Linked DNA regions of Homo sapiens: region 2 is reported to be linked to region 1. Evidence: microRNA targets listed by miRTarBase, many of them from high-throughput screens and not tested one by one. Region 1 holds a microRNA gene; the other region holds the end of a gene's coding sequence.

Region 1 (11,072 bases):
CAAGATTCTAGAGCAGAGACCTAAAAATTTGTTACTTTTCCTGACACCTCTGTATCCCCATGGAGTGTTTCTCTAGTTCCTCTGGTTAGTTTGATAAGCTATTTTAAGAGTGATGGCAATTGAGTGAAGATCATGTTCTTATCCCCATGACAGCCAGTAAGCTTAGTGCTCTTTCATGGCCATAGGCCATCACTCAATAATAGCTAAAACATATTACCCAACAGAGAGCAAGGGATGGAAATGTAAACAGATTAGAATGAACATGTAACCTATCCACCATAGCAAAATCTTCTTAAAGAGCTTAAAGTGCTGATGGTAAAGAAGTATTTATACTATATTAGATCAAGGGACCATGAGGTAAATGCCAGCGTCATAGTGTAAGTTAGAAGACCAAGCTTTTTCTGGTGTTAGATGATTTTTGGACAAATTTGTCTTCAGTTTTCCCATTCAGCACTCCAAAATTGACTTGTAAATAGCAACTCTTCTGTAGCACCTTCAGGTTATTTCAGATAGGAGTTTCTGGTGCTATACACAGTATTAAATGCATCCTACAGAGTTTGAAAGTGAATCAAATACAGTAATGAGGAAAGGGGGGAAGTCTATGAGTTTCAGAGGTTTCCTCGGAGACTTGTAAAATATGCATTAGAAGTAAGCAATTTAAGCACCATGAATTTTATTACTAGCCCAAAAGTTACCCTGAGTCTTATATTTTAGCTGATTTACATTCATGCTGTCTTCAGGGTACAATAATGAGTTCGGTCTTGCTTATATCTGAGTTCAGTTTGTAAGGCAAACTCAGGAAAAGTGCTTAAGTAATACAAGCAGAACCCTAAATTATTGTTTTATAATTTGTCCTCTCCTTCTAAAGAAAAATGATTGGTCAAAAGTAATATTTTTATAAAATTTTCCAAAACTGTTATCCTCCTATTAAATTTATTAAATTCTGGTTTATTCTCCTTCTTCATTTTTATCACACATATCTTTTACCATCTTTTACTTTCCCAGATAATCAAACAATGCCAATTGGTTACACTGCATTTACTTATTTTTATTTTGTCTATATCTTTATGTGTACATATTCTATGTATGTAGGTATATATGTATGTATGTATGTATCTATCTATCATCTATCTTCCTTAAGATACCTTTATAATACCATTACTTATAGTAAAGAGTTTATGAAACATTCAAACATAGTCATTGATATTATATTGTGAAAAGTTTAAATTAGTGCCTTGGTGAATCATATGCATTATTTATGTTTTTTTCACCTATTTCTAAGAAGAATATCAAACAAAACAAGAATGTCAATATTTCTGAGAGTAAATTCTTCTATTTTACCAAATTCCTCTTCTCTCTATGGCCAACATATATTCCAATCACATACAAAGCAAAAACAAACCCAAAATCTCTGCAAAACTGTCTTTGTTTCCTTACAAGAAGAGATAATAAATACTGTCGATGTTATGTGGAGCCTCCAATTTGTAATTGCTCAATTGTCACTCTTCTTTTTACTCAGCTATTAAAAGTAATAGCTTACTTTTTCAATCTCAAGTCCTGTAACAAACAATAATATTCTGATTTACATTGTGGTGCATCTCAAATTGTTTTAAAATCTGAACTAAAATTACCTTGAATATTTTGTGTTGGACTTTTATTACTAGCCATGCAATACTATTCTAAATACCTGGGGGGTAGACCAGGAGAACAGGCCCAAGAGGAGTCATTTAAATATCAATGGTGAGACAGAAGCACAATTCAAAAAATTCATAATTAAGGCAGTATTTTCCTTTTGATAGTATGTATATTGGCATAATGTTGTTTTGAATTTTATTGGAAATATTTGAAAATAATACATAAAGTATGTAATGTCAGTCTAGTTAAAACTTGTATTTTTGTGGTATATCCCTCAATCTGATTTTTCCAACTGATTTGATAATGTTCAAAAAGCCAACATTTAAGATTCTGTTTCTCCAAAGAATATAAATAATATTCTCTTTCTCCAAAGAATATAAATAATAATGTCATTATAATCCCACAAAACTAGTAGAAATAATTGTACAATGATTTAATGAAATCTCCCCTGTGGCTGATGTTCAGCATTAAAATGTCACTATTAGTTGAATGCTTACCCTTACCAAGTATTCTAGTAAGCACTTTATATGCATTATCTTATTTACTGTCAATCATCCCAGTAGTACCATTAATATATCTTTTGTGTTAATAAGGAAAATTCTATTTAGAGTGGTTAAAGACCTTGTGTCAGCTGCTTAGCACTGGAGACTCTAAGTTCACTGGAATGAACTCTATTTTGTTTGATTCCAGAGTCTGTGTTCTTACGCTATAAATTATTCTCTCTTTCAAGATGCTATTGAGATCCTGGAATTGGTTTATATATTTGATCTGAATAGGACAATCTGAATTTTTAAGGTCATTTAATATTAAGTATAAAGTGAATTTTCTTTTTACATGACTGTAATTTCTCAAAGTGAATTCTCTTCTTCTCCTCTGATATTATGCTGTGTTCACCCCATCTTTAATCATAATATGTTTGGTTGGCTTCTTAGCAATTGTCAGCATCTTTGCCACATGTTTGGAGGCCTGATATCAGTTTGTCACCATGTACTGTATTTTTCCTGTCTGGTTGGGAGCAGAGAGCAGGTGCTTGGAAATCCTGCTCTCATCCATTCTCCACACATGACTGGTCTATGTTCAGCTGAATTATGGTGAATATCACTTGAGAACTGCTGTAGTAACTGCACTTCAAGACCTGCCTGTAATCTTGCCCTGCTATTTGATATTCATTCAGCAAAGCACATAAATGAAATTATTAAAACTATTTAAGGACTCAGATATGCTCATATCATCTTCAAGACTTATCATCTTATTATAATACATGAGAAATCAGCGTAATTCTGAAGAAGTTAAGCTTGACCCAGAGTTTGGAACACAATTGAAATACCTAATTGATGGTTTGTTATTAAACTATCAATTAAATGTATTTTTACATTTAATTTTCAATGTTGTTGATCTGCTGGTTTACAATTGGGAAACTCACTCAAAAGAGAAATGAAATTCAAAACTATAATGATCTATCATCTTACACTAGTTAAAGTGGCTTTTTTCAAAGAGATAGGTAATAATGGATGCTGGCCGGGATATGGAGAAAGGGGAATCCTTGTACACTGTTGGTGGGAATGTAAATTAATATAGCCACTATGGAGAATAGTATGGAGGTTCCTTACAAATCGCAAAATAATACTATCATATAATCCAGCAATCCCACTGCTGGGTATATATCCATAATAAAGAAAATTAGTCTATTGAAGAGATATCTGCACTGCCATGTTTATTGCAGCACTGTTCACAATAGCCAACATACGGAATCACCCTAAGTATCTACCAACAGATGAATGGATAAAGAAAGTACGGTACATATACACAATGAGATATTATTCAACCGTAAAAAATAATGAAATCTTGCCATTTGCAACTTAGATTGAAATTGAACACAAAGGTTTATGTAAACAGATACTCATGTAAACAAACTTTCAAAAGACAATTTTTGTTAATGCAAATATTTACATTAAACCAATCAATAATAAAAGTTTGCCTTGCTTTAGCAAATGTTTTAAATAAAAATTAAGATGTAAAAATATGAATAAGAGAAGCCCTAATCACTGGAAAATAATTATGTGTAAAAATTTTTAAAGATACATGTGAACACTTAAATGACTTAGTTGAAATAGATTTACAACTGTCTTGTATTACATACCTATTTTATACCGCAAGCGTACCTATATGTAGATTCTGGAAACCTCATGCCGAGGTAGAGATTTTAAGATTAATAGCAAAGCTCCAGATATAGGTAGATTTTCATATATTTCAAAGGCATGTATGCTCTGATACAAAATACGTTATTAGAGGAAAGCTTGCTTAAACTGTATAAGAGAGAAGCTTTTCTTGTTTCTAAGCACAGGTTTGAATTTTCTTCTGTTCATTTATTTCCCAGCAGGTGTCTCTATACAGCAGCGATATTCAGAAAGCACAAGAAGACAAGAACTAATTATATAAAAAAGAAAATGTAGCAAGGAGAGAAATGAACTGGTCATAGAGTATATCTATGTTGACAATATGAAGTCAAACTAAAAATATATACTCTCCATAAATAGTTGTATAGCATATTTTATTTTCTTCTTGATTTTATTTGTTTAAACAACTTTTTGAAAAGAGTCCTAGGAAAAGCTTTTAAAACAGTTTGTACTATATACAACCTATATAGGTTGGTTTTTTATATATATATATATATATATGTGCAGATATATATATATATATATATTTATATGTGCAGATTGGACCAAATACAAACCTCTAACAGTATCAGTTTACTCATTGCCATCTTGATCTGATAACTTCAGCATTTCAGATGAAACTTAAAGGAAGTAGAACTGATCTGTGCTATAATCATCAACAATGATTTAAAGGTGATAGTAGACAGTAAGATATTAAAAAGCAGAAAGATAGTGTAAAATAATATCACTCAAAGATGTAAATTATCCAGCTTTCCTTGATCAATGCATTACAAAAGTCACTATTTTCATTTAGAATGAGATGCAAAAGAGTGAATATTTTTAATGCTTAATTGTCAATACATAAGCTTTTTAATCAAACAAAATTTATGCTTTGATGGATCCCAGTTGAATTTCTACCCTAAAATAGATTAAATAAAACATTTCAACTTTACAGATTAAAGGAATTGAACTCATGCCTTTTTTATTGTAATTGCAGATTTAATGCATCACAACATTCTGAGATGAAAACACGAAATCAATACATGCTTAAAACTTAATAGCGTTAACTGAATTGCTTCTAAGTTAAACTTAAGTTTTAACATGTAGAGTTCTTATTTCCCAAACAATAAACATTCACCCAGTTTAAAAACACATGAAAACTATAAATTTGTAAATATAAATATAAAATGATATATAAATATATAAATATATTTATATATATATATAAATATAAATATATTTATATATAAATATAAATATAAATATAAATGATAAAATATAAATATAAGAATATATTCCACAAAATGGTTAAAGACAGAAAAAAATTCTAGCTGGATGGATCTCAAAGACAGTTTGCTCAACTTTTACATCTATTGGATTTTTTAGGACGTTAATAGAAATTTATAAAATCTTAGAACTAAGTATGTCACAAAAATGTATGTGTATTTTGGCCAATTATAGAGAGGCTATGGAATAATTGTACTCAATGAGGTCCCAATTTTCCTTTCACTCTGATGTTATATTTCTTTTATCTTATGTTTATTTTAAAAAATTAATACGTTAATCTGAAGGGCCACTAAATAAATCTTCCAGGCTTCCACGATACTTTCAGAAATGGATTGAACTGGCTGGGCGCAGTGGCTCACGCCTGTAATCCAAGCACTTTCGGAGGCTGAGGCGGGCGGAACACCTGAGGTCGGGAGTTCGAGATCAGCCTGACCAACATGGAGAAACCCTGACTCTACTAAAAAATAAAAATAAAAATAAATACAAAATTACCCAGGCATGGTGGCACATGCCTGTAATCCCAGCTACTTGGGAGGCTGAGGCAGGAGAATTGCTTGAACCTGGGAAGCGGAGGTTGCAATGAGTTGAGATCATACCATTGCACTCCAGCCTGGGCAACAATAGCAAAACTCCCATAAAAAAAAAAAAAAAATAGAACTTTTTAAATTCATTCTATTTAGATTAACAATCTGATTTCAAATTATCAGATAATATTTTCTGGTTTAAGATGAACAGAAAATACACTTGTCAATGTTTTCTCACAGTCTTTTTTTTAAGTAACAAAAACAAAATTATAAGAACAAATTAATGATAAAAAAAAAGAAAGAAAGGAGGTAGTGAGAGGCCACAAAAATGGAGAATTCCCAGTAAAGGAGAATGAGTACATCTTTAAAGAGAAATCAGAGTTGATAGGGTATATCCCAAGAATAAACATGGTTTTGTCCAAGGAGCCAAGAAGAAGCTCCAGGTTCTAAATCCACAAATTAAAAGAAAAGGAATGTGTCATGGGGCAACAAAAATGGGCTACTGAAATGTAAATCCATGAGAGCAGGGGTTTCATTGGTCTTGTTTGCTGCTGGAACTGACATAGAATTTTGCCTGGCAATAAAGAGTTCAGTACAGCATACAGAAATTTACTACCAGTAGAGTAAGGAGATCTGTCATTGTTTTATAGTTATTTTTTCCTCTTTATGGCTAACCAAGATATGGAGTTAGAATAAGCTCAGCTTTGTTGCACTCTCAGGCTTTATTTTCTGCTGTGGGAAGCTTCCAAAGGCATAAGACCAGTGGTGTGCTGGAGCTGCCTTCTACGGTCTATTAAAAGCCAGCTATTAAATTTTTAGGAATTTTGCAAGACAGGTTTTAAATGCACATATCAGTTTTTAAAAAATCTACAAAATAAATCTATACTTCCATATCTTCCATATATTATAATAAAAACATGCAATATATACTCAATATTCATTACTTTCTAATTATTCCACCATATTTTAATGCTATTGATGATCTTGTGGTTATTTACATCTGCGTGGGTGATGGAAAAGCTATCCAGTTGTCCCTCATTATCCCTGGAGATAATTGGTTCCAGGATCACTCCCACTAAAACAGAATCCATGAATGCTCAAGTCCCTGATTTAAAATGGCATATTACTTACATGTAACTTATCAATATCCTCCCGTATACTTTAAATCCTCTCTAGAATACTTACAATACTTAATACAATGTACATGCTATGTAAATAATTGTTATGCTTTATTATCTTTTTACTTGTATTATTTTTATTGTATGTATATTGAGTTTATTAGAATATTTTTGATCAGCAGAGGGCTTTTTTATTGTTGTTCTTTCTGGATATGCATGTGTACATACATGTTTTTCCACCTGCTCTACCATATGGAAATAGTTTGCTGACATTCTTCTAGATAGCCTCCAAAACCCAACCAATAAATTTAGCCCATATTATACACAGCAGAAAACAATAGAATTTATTTGTGCTTGCGGCACCCATATACATGGAAGAACTCAATGATGAGTGACTCAAAAGAAGTAATTAGAATTTGGAGCTTATAGATAATACAATTTTAATAGGTGAAAGGGAGAGAGAGAAAGGCACCTAGGGAAAACAGATGACTTTTTGGAAAGATAAATGGGCTTTCAGAAGAAAAAACAGGAGATAAAGTTTGTGATAATGTTTGTCTATATAGTTATGAATGTTTTTTCCTGTTTCCTTCAGGGCCATAATACTCCCCTGGAGAAGGGGTTTGAGGTAGGTTTTATTTACATTTTCCCTTCTGGGATTAGATCTACCCTGAAGTGCAATTTATAGCAGCCTTATTTCCCATAAGTTTCTACTTTTACTCAGATAAAGAAAGCTCTAGGAAGGCTTTTTTTTTTTTTTCTGCATCTGTTGAAAAGTTTTAAATAGTTTACTTAGATACATTTATTAGATTTGAATGAAAAGGTTGGTGTACTTTACTTTTCAAAGTATATACCAATTTTACAATTCTTTCTTCTTTACAGTAAACCTCATTTTTGACAAGTGGTTGGCTGTCTTAGCTTAACTTGAGATATGAAAATATAGGTAGAACATTTTTCTAGCAATCATCTACAAAGATGAAAATTTCCCTCTCAGATAGGCACTTGAACTTTTTCTTAATAATATAAGTACTTTATTGGAGAGTATGTGAACCCTCTTTTCTCAATAGATGGTCTTGTTAAATATATTTTTTAAATATGACAACAAAAGAACACAAGAAACTTTGATAAATTTTATTTTATAAAAACAAGAGTATTTGTTCTGCAAACACAATGTTAAGAAAAGAAAGAAACTGCAGACTGGATTAATATGTGCAAAACAGGTAACTAATACAGACTTGTATTTACAATGTAAAAAGAATCTGAAATACTTAATATGAATATATATATTTTTGAGACAGAGTCTCACGTTGTAACCCAGGCTGGAATACAGTGGCACCATTTTGGCTCACTGCAGCCTCAACTTCCTGGCTCAGGTGATCCTCCTACCTCAGCCTCTCAAGTGTCTGGGACTATAGGCGTGTGCCACCATGCCCAGCTAATTTTTTGTATTTTCTGTAGAGATGGGGTTTTGCTGTGTTCCTCAGGCTGGTCTAGAATTCCTAGGCTCAATTGATTTGCCCACCTCGGTCTCCTAAAGTGCTGGGATTATAGGTGTGCACCCACCCTTAATAAGACTAATTTTAAGAAAACAAACAACCAAATAGAAAATGAGGAAAGGATTTGACAGGTATTTCACCAAACATATATGGATGATAAATATGCATAATAAGAGTCTCAAAATCAGTAGTCATTAGGGAAATACTAATTGAAACCATGAGATACCATAGGTTGTTTGCAAGAATAAACGTGATATACCATTTGTGAAAATAAATTAGAAATTTCTTATAAAGTTAAACATAAGCCCATGACTCAGTAATCCTACTCACAGTATTTAACCAAGGTAAATGAAGACTTAGGTTCATACAAAAACTTGTATGGAAAGGTTTATAATGGTCTTATTTATTATTGTCAAAAACTGGGAAAACCTAAACATCCTTCATTGGTTAATGGATAAATAGTGACATATACATCCAATGAAATACTAGTCAGCAATAGAAAAACCTGATTAATAATATACACACAACATGGATGAATCTCAAATGCATGTGCTAAGTAACAAGAGGCAGAGAGAAAAAATTTTATATGGTATGTTTCTATCTAATGACATTCTGGAAAAGTAAAATATAGGAACGGAAAGCACATTAGTGTTTGCTATGGGCTGGGCGGGCAGGAGGTGTTGACTATAAAGTGCAGCAACAGGGGTTATTTGGGGGGTGATGAACTATTTTGCAGTTTGATTGTGGTCATGGTTTTATATGACTGTAAGCATTTATCAAATTTGACAGGGTGGTACATCAAAAAGTAAAATTTATGTGAATTTGAAAAGTGAATAATAATAACAGTGACAACATTAATCATAAAATCCTAGATGAGTAACAATGCCAAAAAAGTGATATAAAGACGAGAAGAACTTACAGCATTAGCACAAAACATTTTTTAAAAATTTAGGTCTCAGCTTCATTGTTATCTCCTCAGAAAAGTTTTTCCCTGACCATTGAGTATGAAGTATCTACTCGTCATTCTCAATCACAGCATCTTAATTTAATTATCTCCCTTGCACTTAATTCTAATCCAATGTTTTCTCATTTATTTAAGTTTTTATTATTTTTTGTTGTTTGTATTCCTGTGTTAAAATGTAATCTTGTTTTCTGTAATGCTCACAACTGTGAGCTGAGGACGTCGAATAATTCCTGGCATGAAGGATTACTTGATGCACATTGGTTAAATGGGGATAATGTCATTAGTCTTTGAACTGCAATGTAGGAGTTCCAAGTTTTTAAATAAGATTAACATGTCATATAATAAAAAACATTGATCAAAATTGAAATACCAAACAAAAGTCTCTTAAAAGCCACAAGTATTCAATAAATATCAATTTCTTACTAATATGAGTTGGGAAGTAAAACAATAAGGGCTAAAACTGACTAAAATATTTAGGTAGTATCTTTGGAAAAATAGGTAAAAACATATAAAGTATAAAAATGTTTTGAACTAAAAGAAAACTGTTTAATATAAAATCATATATAAGAAGAAAGAAAGAAAAGGCTGTGATTTTTTGCATAATTTGGATAAGAAACTCATCATATAGTTTTCACATTCTTAGAAGAAAAGTGAATAGCTTCAAGATGGCACCAAGAAAGAACTGCACAGATGCCAAATATACAGCTTAGGACACAATCAACTCCTTGCATTAAAACGACATGCCATCATAAGTTGGTTGCAAATTCCTGATTTGGGCAAAAGAATGGATGGCAATATAGAATCCCCCAGTTATGAGTTACTCATTAATTTATTAACTTGTAAGATTAAAATTAAGAAGCAGGACTCAAAAATGTTGTGTTTAGGTTTTTGTCTTAGTATACAAATTTAAGCTTGCTTGTTTGAGAACATCTGTTGTTTTATATATGGACTTTTTTTCTCAATTACCTATCTGTATCAGTCTAACTGTGAATAAGTTGTAGAGAACAGATTGATGTTGCTTCGACCTCTTTACCTAACAATATGACTGCAAAGACTAATTATTAGATGGGAAAGCTGACAGTTTATTCTCTGGAAGGGCTGGTGATTGGGATTGTAATGATCTTGAAAGATATTGTTGCAACTGTACCACTTCCACTGTTCCTACTATTCCTTTTTGCCTCAGATGAGGTGGCTCTGAGATAGGAGTTACAGCAAGGAAGTGTTAACATGATTATTATTACTAAGTTACTTAGCTGAATATGAAAAATGACCCACTGAGGATTTTTATATCTTCTAAGATCTGAGTGAGCCAAAAGGTAATCAAGAACACCCTGCACTGATGTAGAATATGGCCTGCTTTAAGTCCACTTTAAATAGCTATTCATTTTCTCATCCTTTCATTTATCCAGAGGCACTTATGGAATATCCGTGGTGTAACTGACCTTGTTCTAGGTACTTGTTCCCTGTTTTGAGACATCTCCTGGAGATCAAGGTCTTTGGAAATGTGGCACTGCTCTTGCTACTTCATTGTTCTATTCTTGATGTGACATTTTTGACAAAATTTTAAATATTCATTTCTAAAAGATATAATAATTTTGTGGTAAATGAAAATAATATGAAAGCCTTTGCAAAATACTAAGGTCAGTGGTTTTTCTATGTAAAAAATAAAATCATAACTTAGGGGTGGGATAGACAAGGTTCCCCAAAGAAAGTACACATGCTGAACTGTTAAGATGTTTGAAATAAGAAATCTCACTAGCAGTAAGCTGGAAAGAGTAGCGATACTATCTGAATATAGATTGGAACTATTTTAGAATACAGGGTAAAGAATACGGTTTCTTAAAGAAAGAGATTGGTCTTTATATGTTTGTATTTCAAAACGTCAAGCTTAATAA
Region 2 (11,072 bases), not on the chromosome of region 1:
ATACATAATAATATATATTACACATATACATAATAATATATATTATATATATACATAATAATATATATTATATATATTTTGAGACAGAGTCTTGCTCTGTTGCCCAGAGTGGAGTACAGTGGTGCAATCTAAGCTCACTGCAAACTCCACCTCCCAGGTTCAAGTGATTCTACTGCCTCAGCCTCCCAAGGAGCTGGGATTACAGGTGCACCACCATGGGCGGCTAATTTTTGTATTTTTAGTAGAGATGGTGTTTCACCATGTTGGCCAGGCTGGTCTCGAACTCCCGACCTCACATCATCCACCCACCTCGGCCTCCCAAAGTGCTGGGATTACAGGTGTCAGCCACCACACCTCGCCTCCGGCCTAAAATTTTTTTTTTTTTTTTTTGTGAGACAGAGTCTCACTCTGTCACCCAGGCTGAAGTGCAGTGGTGCTATCTGGGATCACGGCAACCTCCATCTCCTATTCCCTGTCTCCGTCTCCTCAAGCAATTCTTCTGCCTCAGCCTCCCAAGTAGCTGGGATTACAAGCACGTACCACCACGCCCACCTAAACTTGTATTTTTAGTAGAGATGGGGTTTCCCCACGTTAGCCAGGCTGGTCTCGAACTTCCAACCCCAGGTGATCTGCCCACCCCGGCCTCCCAAAGTGCTGGGATTATAGGTTTGAGCCATCACGCTCGGCATTGATTTTTTAATTCATATATTTTCTATACTTACTATATACTTTTTTGTTTTTTTGAGACAGAGTCTCACTCTGTTGCCCAGGCTGGAGTGCAGTGGCGTGATCTCAGCTCCCTGCAAGCTCTGCCTCCCGGGTTCATGCCATTCTCCTGCCTCAGCCTCCCAAGTAGCTGGGACTACAGGCGCCTGCCACCACGCCCGGCTAATTTTTTGTATTTTTAGTAGAGACCAGGTTTCACCGTGTTAGCCAGGATGGTCTTGATCTTCTGACCTCATGATCCACCTGCCTTGGGCTCCCAAAGTGCTGGGATTACAGGCGTGAGCCACTGCGCCCGGCCAATATATACTTTTCTATAGGTATTATTATTTCTAGTTAAAAAAAAAGGTTAAAAAGGGAAAAACCAAAACTTTTATTAATCTTTATTTAAAGATGCAAGGTAGAACACATTTTAACACTGTACAATGGCAGTAGCAGCTTTGCAAATGTTTATCTATATGGACTTTTTTTTCCTGCCTGGCTTCGTTATATAGCAAAGCATTTTTCTTTTTTCTTTCTTTTTTTTTTTTTTTTTTTTTTGAGACAGCATCTTGCTCTGTCACCCAGCAGGCTGGAGTGCAGGTGGTATGAACACTGCTCGCTGGAGCCTCAACCTCCTGGACTCAAGTGATTCTCCCACCTCAGTCTCCCGAGTAGCTGGGACTACAGGCACATGCCACCATGCCCGGCTAATTTTTTGTTTTTTGTAGAGACAGGGTCTTGCAATGTTGCCCATACTGGTTTCAAACTCTTGGCCTCAAGTGATCCTCCCACCTCAGCCTCCCAAAGTGCTGGGATTACAGGTGTGAGCCACTGTGCCTGGCCCCCAAGCCTATAATTTTTTAATTTATATATTTTTCTATACTTAACATATACTTTTTTTTTTTTTGAGACAGTTTCGCTCTTGTTGCTCAAGCTGGAGTACAATGGGGCGATCTCGGCTCACTGCAACCTTTGCCTCCCAGGTTCAAGCCATTCTGGCTCAGCCTTCCCAGTAGCTGGGATTACAGGTGTCTGCCACTATGCCCGGCTAATTTTTGTATTTTTAGTAGAGACAGGGTTTCACCATGTTGGCCAGACTGGTCTCGAACTCTTGACCTCAGGTGATCTGCCTGCCTCGGCCTCCCAAAGTGCTGGGATTATAGGCATGAGCCACCGCACCCGGCCAACATTTACTTTTCTATAGGTATTATATTTCTAGTTTAAAAAGAAGGTTAGAAAGAGAAAAACCAAAACTTTTATTAATCTTTATTTTAAAACATAACCAGATGCACCTTGGTTGTTTACATTCTCTGGTTGCCATTCAGTCTCAAAGTAAACACTGGGAGCATATGATAAATCGTAGTTTAAGGAAGCCATAGCACTTACAGAGTTCTCAAATGGTTACAATATAAAATCTGTCATAAAAATCAGTAAAAGATGCAAGGTAGAACACATTTTAACACTGGTACAATGGCAGTAGCAGCTTTGCAAATGTTTGTCTATATGATTTCCACAGGACTTTTTTTTTTTGCCTGGCCTCATTATGTAGCAAAGCATTTTTTCTTTTCTTTTTGAGATGGAGTCTTGCTCTGTTACCCAGCAGGCTGGAGTGCAGTGGTATAAACACAGCTCACTGCAGCCTCAACCTCCCGGGCTCAAGTGATTCTTCCACCTCAGTCTCCTGAGTAGCTGGGACTACAGGCACACATCACCGCTCCCGGCTAATTTTTCGTTTTTTGTAGAGTTGGGGTCTTGCAGTGTTGCCCAGGCTTGTTTTGAACTCTTGGCCTCAAGCGAACCTCCTGCCTTAGCCTCCCAAAGTGCTAGGATTATAGGTGTGAGCCACTGCACTGGGCCATAAAGCATTTTTCTTTTTCTTTCTTTTTTTTTTGAGACAAGGTCTCACTCTGTTGCCCAGACTGTAGTGCAGTAGTGTGATCTCAGCTCACTGCAACCTCCACTTCCATCGTTCAAGTGATTCTCACGCCTCAGTCTTCTGAGAAGCTGAGACTATAGGCACATGCCACCACACCCAGATAATTTTTATATATTTTTTTTGGTAGAGACGGGGTTTCACCATGTTGGCCAGGCTGGTCTCAAACTCCTGACCTCAAGTGATACACCCACCTCGGCCTCCCAAAGTGCTGGGATTACAGGTGTGAGCCACTGTGCCTGGCCCCCAAGCCTATAATTTTTTAATTTATATATTTTTCTATACTTAACATATACTTTTTTTTTTTTTTTGAGACAGTTTCGCTCTTGTTGCTCAAGCTGGAGTGCAATGGGGCGATCTCGGCTCACTGCAACCTCTGCCTCCCAGGTTCAAGCCATTCTGGCTCAGCCTTCCCAGTAGCTGGGATTACAGGTGTCTGCCACTATGCCCGGCTAATTTTTGTATTTTTAGTAGAGACAGGGTTTCACCATGTTGGCCAGACTGGTCTCGAACTCTTGACCTCAGGTGATCTGCCTGCCTCGGCCTCCCAAAGTGCTGGGATTATAGGCATGAGCCACCGCACCCGGCCAACATTTACTTTTCTATAGGTATTATATTTCTAGTTTAAAAAGAAGGTTAGAAAGAGAAAAACCAAAACTTTTATTAATCTTTATTTTAAAACATAACCAGATGCACCTTGGTTGTTTACATTCTCTGGTTGCCATTCAGTCTCAAAGTAAACACCGGGAGCATATGATAAATCGTAGTTTAAGGAAGCCATAGCACTTACAGAGTTCTCGAATGGTTACAATATAAAATCTGTCATAAAAATCAGTAAAAGATGCAAGGTAGAACACAGTTTAACACTGGTACAATGGCAGTAGCAGCTTTGCAAATGTTTGTCTATATGATTTCCACAGGACTTTTTTTTTTTTGCCTGGCCTCATTATGTAGCAAAGCATTTTTTCTTTTCTTTTTGAGATGGAGTCTTGCTCTGTTACCCAGCAGGCTGGAGTGCAGTGGTATAAACACAGCTCACTGCAGCCTCAACCTCCCAGGCTCAAGTGATTCTCCCACCTCAGTCTCCTGAGTAGCTGGGACTACAGGCACACATCACCGCTCCCGGCTAATTTTTCGTTTTTTGTAGAGTTGGGGTCTTGCAATGTTGCCCAGGCTTGTTTTGAACTCTTGGCCTCAAGCAATCCTCCTGCCTTAGCCTCCCAAAGTGCTAGGATTATAGGTGTGAGCCACTGCACTGGGCCATAAAGCATTTTTTCTTTCTTTCTTTCTTTTTTTTTTTTTTGACACAGGGTCTCACTCTGTTGTCCAGACTGGAGTGGAGTGGTGTGATCTTGGCTCACTGCAACCTTCACCTCCAGGATGCACATAATTCTCGTGCTTTAGCTTCCTGAGTAGCTGGGGCTATAGGCACATGCCACCACGCCTGGATAATTTTTATTTTTATTTTTGGTAGAGACGGGGTTTCACCATGTTGGCCAGGCTGGTCTCAAACGTCTGACCTCAAGTGTTTTGCCCGCCTCAGCCTCCCAAAGTGCTGGGATTACAGGCGTGAGCCACTGTGCCAGGCCTTTTTTTTTTTTTTTTTTTTTTTTGAGGCAGGGTCTGGCTCTGTTGCCCAGGATGGAATACAGTGGCACAATCTCAGCTCACTGCAACCTCTACCTCCGGGGCCCAAACCATCCTCCCACCTCAGCCTCACAAGTAGCTGGGACTACAGGCACACAACATCACACCTGGCTAATTTTTTTGATTTTTGGTAGAGACGGAGTTTTCATCATGTTGCCCAGGCTGGTCTCAAACTCCTGAGCTCAAGTCATCCACCTGCCTTGGCCTCCTAAAGTCCTGGGATTACAGGCGTGAGCCATGGTGCCCGGCCCTAGCATTTTTTTAATGATCTCTTATCCCACAAGAATGGTCAAGTCATTTAGCATTAAATGAATAGAGTACACAGTGGTTTACAATATTATAAACATTATAAGCGCCCCATAAAATATTATTGTTATAAATACTCAACTGCTTTATTCTCAGTGATTATTCCCTTTATTTTTACATAATGTAAATGTAGCTAGCAGGTTTAAAAAAAAAAACTTTTACTAGAAGCTGATATATATCTCTTAACGTCACTACCCATTTAATTTTTTTTTTTTTTTTTTGAGACAGGGTCTCTTGCTCTGTCACCCAGGCTGGAGTGGCAGTGTTGCAATCTCGGCTCACTGCAACCTCTGCCTCCCAGGTTCAAGTAACTGGGACTACAGGTGCGTGACACCACACCTGGCTAATTTTGTATTTTTAGTAGAGATGGGATTTCACCATGTTGGCCAGGCTGGTTTCGAAGTCCTGACCTCAAGTAATCCGCCTGCCTCGGCCTCCACAAGTGCTCGGATTACAGGCATGAGTAACCGCACCCGGACACCTGTTTAATTTTCATCCATAAATGTGTTATAAATATAGATGTGGATCTCTGGCCGGGCGTGGTGGCTCACGCCTGTAATCTCAGCACTTTGGGAGGCTGAGATGGGTGGATCACCTGAGGTGAGGAGTTCAAGACCAGCCTGGCCAACATAGTGAAACCCCATCTTTACTAGAAATACAAAAATTAGTCAGGCGTGGCAGTGCGCACCTGTAATCCCAGCTACTCAGGAGGCTGAGGCAGGAGAATTGCTTGAACCTGGGAGGTGGAGGTTGCAGTGAGCCAAGATTGCGCCACTGCACTCCAGCCTGGGTGACAGAGTGAGACTTCATCTCAAAACAAAACAAAACAAACAAACAAACAAACAAAAATCTCTATATATAGATGTGGGTCTCAAAAACAGGACTGCCTCTTAGGTGGTAAACACTGTCCCCAGGTCTGCTTTCTAGTCTGATGACTTTACAACAACACTCTATTTGGCATCTCAATGCAATATTTATCTGTAGAAATACAGTCTTTCTGGGGAGTTGCTTTTTACTTTTTAGAGATGAGTTCTTGCTCTGTTGCCAATGCTGGAGTATAGTGGAACAATCATAGCTCACCATAGCTTCAAACTCTTGGGCTCAAGTGATCCTCCCACCTCAGCTTCACAAGTAACTTGGACACTTAGACTACAGGTGTGCGTCACCATGCCTGGGTAATTTTAAATTTTTGATAGAGACAGGGTCTCGCTATGTTTCCCAGGCTGTATTACTGTCTTTGATTACATAGGTCAGTGACAACAGGGAACTAGGTCTCACAGTGACCTGCTATGGACTTCAGAGATTCCTTGGCAAGGCATTGTCGAAAATATAAGGTTCATGTTGAAGTTGTCATAAAATTTTTATGTAGCTGTATAAATGTGGACAGCAGATATAAAAATAAGGAATACCTTAGACTTCTGTAAGCCAGATATAAGTACCTACCTAAGATGCTAGAAATGATATTCTAATTTAAATTTTTTTTTTAATTTTTAGAGATGGGGTCTTGCTATGTTGCCCAGGCTGGAGTAGAGTGGCTATTCACAGGCATAATTATAGTGCACTACAGCCTCAAGTGATCCTCCCTTCTCAGCTTCCTAAGTAGCTGGGACTATAGGCATGTGTCACCACAGCTGGCTGATTTTTGTATTTTTAATAGAAACGGGGTCTCCCTGTATTATGTTGCCCAGGCTAGTCTTGAATTCCTGGGCTCAAGCAATCCTCCCACCTTGGCCTCCCAAAGTGGTGGGATTACAGGTATGAGCCAAGAGGCTATTTTTTTACTGTCATAACTGCACCTATACAGTACAAACTAGAGTTATCTAGTTAAATTTGAACAACCTCTCTAATCTAAATTGGGTAATTCCAGGATAAACATCACTTTGGAGATTGTATTTTCCCATCTGGTTCTCTTAATCATCATGCAAACTAGAAAATATCCAAATATCTGTATATACACTTTATATCACAGTATGTGTGGGCTCCATACATACTCTAATTCTCCAAATGCAATTATATTAGTATATCTATATAAACCCTACTACATTAAAAAAAAGGATTTGGGTGGGTTTTTTTTGTTTGTTTGTTTGTTTTTGTTTTGCTCTTGTTGCTCAGGCTGGAGTGCAATGACGCGATCTTGGCTCACTGCAACCTCTGCCTCTTGGGTTCAAGCAATTCTCCTGCCTTAGCCTCCCGCATAGCTGGGATTACAGGCACCCGCCACTATGCCCAGCTAATTTCTGTATTTTTAGTGGGGAAGGAGTTTCACCATGTTGGCCAGGCTGGTCTCAAACTCCTGACCTCAGGTGATCCACCTGCCTCAGCCTCCCAAAGTGCTGGGATTACAGGTGTGAGCCACTGCACCCAGCTGGGTGTTTTTATCTGTATTTGTTATGGATCATCTCATGGAGTGAGGCAGAGTTGGCATCAGTTTTGTTCATCAAAGCTGCTTGTAGAAAGTGGCAGAGTTGGAGTTGGGCTTCTAGGGTGAGCCAGCTATAAAAAAAAAAAGTCCCAATTATAATATCAATTATATTCCTGTGATAAGTACAACTCTCCTTTCTCAACAGAACCCAGAATTTTTGCATGGCAACACTGCATTCAGATTGTAAAAACCACTTTTCCCAGTTTCCCTGATGCAATCAGAAGTTCCTGGATAGGGCTTCTTTGAAGAAATGAGGCATAGCTTAATTAACATTTGCCTTTCTCCTTCTCTTGCCTAGAATGTGGACATGAGGCTTCAGGAAATGTAGGCATTTTGTATTAAGAGGATAAAAGCCACACATTAAGGATGGAAGAACAGTGATTATATGGTGAAGCCACTGTATTATAGTTGTGGACTTCCTACTGCCCAAAGAAATATTTAAATTAAAAAAATAAGTCCGGGAGCTAAGCTATGAGGATGCAAAGGCATAAGAATGATACAGTGGACTTTGGGGACTTGGGGGAAAGGGTGGGGTGGGGTGAGGGATAAAAGACTATACATTGGGAACAGTGTACACTGGCTGGGTGATGGGTGTGCCAAAATCTCAGAAATCACCACTAAAGAACTAATTTGTGTAACCAAACACTTTCTGTTCCCCAAAAACGTATTGAAATAAAAAATAAATTTAAAAAAAAAAAAGATAGTTGTGGGCCGAGGACGGTGGCTCACGCCTGTAATCCCAGCACTTTGGGAGGCCGAGACAAGAGGATCACTTGAGCCCAGGAGTTTGAGACCAGCCTGGGAGATATAGTGAGACTTCGTCTATAAATTTTAAAAAAACAGGCTGGGCCCGGTGGCTCACGCCTGTAATCCCAGCACTTTGGGAGGCCGAGGCAGGTGGATCACAAGGTCAGGAGATCGAGACCATCCTGGCTAACACGGTGAAACCCTGTCTCTACTAAAAATACAAAAAATTAGCCGGGCGTGGTGGCGGGCGCCTGTAGTCCCAGCTATTCGGGAGGCTGAGGCAGGAGAATGGTGTGAACCCAGGAGGCAGAGCTTGCAGCGAGCCAAGATTGCGCCATTGTACTCCAGCCTGGGCGACAGAGCGAGACTCCGTCTCAAAAAAAATTAAAATAAAATAAAATAAATGAGTTAGTTGTATATATTAAAAAAAAAAGTCCTAATTTATTTATTTATTTGTCAAGGCAGAGTCTTGCTATATCGCCCAGGATGGTTTCAAACTCCTGGCCTCAAGCGACTTTCCGGCCTTAGCCTCCCAAAGCACTGGGATTACAGGTATGAGCCACTACACTCTGCCATGTCCCTATTTGATTAAACCACTATAGTCAGATTTCTGATACCTGAAGCCAATGCAAAACCTGATACAGTTGCTTCACAGTTTAAGAAAAAAAGAAGCCTAAGGGTTGGGTGGGATAAGTCATCTATATCTAACAACAATTTTAACTAGACATCCTCCTCCTGAGTAGATTTTGGCAGCACAACATATGCCATAGGTCTTATCTGTGATTTTTGTTGTTGTTCAATATGTGGCTTTACAATTTATTATCGTTTATCCATTTCCAGAGTTCTCAACTCACTGTACCTGCTATGAAGTAGGGGCAGTGACAACAAAGATCTTAGAGCTAAACAGAAAAAGCAAGGGGCTAAGACCCGTGAGGCCTCGTCCCTTTGCTCCTGCCCTTCACAATTTTGGGTATCACCAAGGAACTTGATTAGGGGTAGCATGCTCTAAGAGGAGGAAAGAAGAACCTGGTCACATCTCCACTACGCAGAAAGCTGTATAGTGCCCAGTAGGACCAAGTTGATTGGTAAGAGAGAAATTATATTGTCCCACAAAAAGCACTGATTCTCAAACACGGAACAAAAGGAAGACAATATTGGGGTGGAAAGTGTCAGCAGTGGAGTCTGCTATGTCCCTGCATCCAGAGAGAGAACGAACTATAAACTTCAAAGCCAAAGATGCCAGCAGCCCTGTGTTCCAGCACTCCAGCAGGGGCAGCCGACGGATGGCTGTTCTTCACAGATCTAATGATAGAGGCAATTAGGGAGATGACTAAGATCAACAGGGTTTGGAAGAAGTCACACCAGGGCCAGCTGATCTACTGGGTTGGGTATGTGGTTGTATATGAATGTGACAAAGAAAGCTCTCAAGACCTTTTCCTTTCAACTCTGCAGGGTCTGACTCCTAACTACATCTCCATCCCTGTCTTTCACCACCATTGGGCTCCCTCTCTGTGTTACAGCCACACTGGTCACTTCTTAGTTCCTTGAATAGGCCATGATCCCTCACCCCATGGAACTCTTACGAATTTTGTTCTTTTTGCCTGGAACTCTCTCCTTCCTGACACTCATGGTGGACCCACCCCACAGTTACCCTATCCAGTAAATGCCTCTTCCTTCTTCGACTCTCACCTCAAGCATCATCACTTCCTAAGGGAGTCCCTCCTAGATCATCCAGGCTAGATCAAGTTCCTCTCTGGGTTCCCACAGAACCTCATTCCTTTCCTTCATAGCACATACTGCCATGTGATATTATACAAATATGGGATTATTTGATGAATGCCTATTTTCCCCACTAGACTGAAAGCTTCAAGACAGTAATCTGTATCTGTTTTTGCTTACCACTATATTCCCAGTACTTCAACACACTGCTGGGCATATAGGAAGTGCTTAGTAAATATTTACTAAAAATATGTACTAAAGGGATTAATAAAATCAGACATTTACAGATAGACATGATAATCCTACCTATAGTTCTTTTTTTTCTTTTTTTGAGACAGGGTCTCACTCCGTCACCCAGGCTGGAGTGCAGTGGTGCAGTCTTGGCTCACTGCAACCTCCGTCTCCTGGGTTCAAGCGATTCTCATGCCTTAGCCACCCAAGTAGCCGGGATTACAGGCACGAGTCACCATACATGGCTAATTTTTTTTTTTTTTGAGACTAAGTCTCGCTCTGTCACCCAGGCTGGAGTTCAGTGGCACAATCTTGGCTCACTGCAACCTCTGCCTCCCAGGTTCAAGTGATTCTCCTGCCTCAGCCTCCCGAGTAGCTGGGACTACAGGCATCCGCCACCACACCTTGCTAATTTTTGTATTTGGGGTAGAGACGGGGTTTCACCATGTTGGTCAGGCTGGTCTCAAACTCCTGAGCTCATGATTCACCTGCCTCGGCCTTCCAAAGTGCTGGGATTACAGGCGTGAGCCACCGTGCCCGGCCATTTTTGTATTTTTTTAGTGGAGACAGGGTTTTGTCATGTTGGCCACGCTGGTCTCAAACTCCTGGCCTCATGTGATCTGCCCACCTCGGCCTCCCAAAGTGCTGAGATTACAGGCATGAGCCACTCACTGTGCCCGGCCAATCCTACCTGTATTTTATAGAATTTTATGAAGCCTAAATATGAAAATACTTTGCAAAATACGGTACCATTTAAAAATTATTGTTACTAAGAAAGCTGCTTTAAATTATGATCATAAATTATGATTATGATTATTTATTTGAGACAGGGTCTTGCTTTGTCACCCAGACTGGAGTGCAGTGGTGCAATCACAGCTCACTGCAGCCTTGACCTCCTGGGCTCAAGTGATCCTCCAACACAGCTTCCCAAGTAGCTGGAACTACAGGCATGCACCACCACGCCTGGCTAATTTTTTGTATTTTTTGTAGAGACAGAGTTTCACCATGTTGCCCATCTTGAACTGCTAGGCTCAAGCAATCTCCCCACCTCAGCCTCCCAAAGTGTTAGGATTACAGTCATGAGCCACCACACCAGGCCAAATTATTTTCAAGCAAAGGAACCAATATTCTTTTCCTAAAGGGTTACCTGAAACTTTCTCCTTAAGGCCTGCGTCATCACTGGAGTCAGTCCTGTTCCTGTTTCCATATTTTCCTTATTGGTAAGAGGGGTTCCACCTGGGCTCCTGCAAAGGTATTGAAAATAACAGTAGCTGTATTTTATGGCAACTTTTAAAATGGACGTAGAAGGCATAAAGATATGAGAGTGTATTACCTCTCTACATCGACTTTTCTAAGCAGTTT

The links. Region 1 holds the annotated microRNA hsa-miR-4307 (AAUGUUUUUUCCUGUUUCC, at 7,289-7,307, shown strand). A microRNA usually pairs through its seed, bases 2 to 8, with sites in the 3' UTR of a target mRNA and lowers its output. Matches are read on the target gene's strand: a 7mer-m8 pairs with bases 2 to 8, a 7mer-A1 pairs with bases 2 to 7 and ends in A, and an 8mer does both.
Region 2: miRTarBase lists PRR11 as a target of hsa-miR-4307. Seed matches in the 3' UTR shown: 7mer-A1 at 5,802-5,808.

Annotation. Positions count from the first base shown.
Region 1 is chr14:26,901,409-26,912,480 of GRCh38, forward strand. It overlaps MIR4307 (microRNA 4307), which reads left to right and starts at 7,234; the gene lies at 7,234-7,317. All of the region lies in intron 3 of MIR4307HG (MIR4307 host gene), which reads left to right.
Region 2 is chr17:59,197,575-59,208,646 of GRCh38, reverse strand. PRR11 (proline rich 11) reads right to left here. Exons shown (of 10, transcript NM_018304.4): 8 at 11,044-11,072; 9 at 10,858-10,954; 10 at 1,938-7,084. The coding sequence ends at 7,016. Among named protein-coding and RNA genes, the nearest start is that of SMG8, 6.9 kb to the left of the region's middle.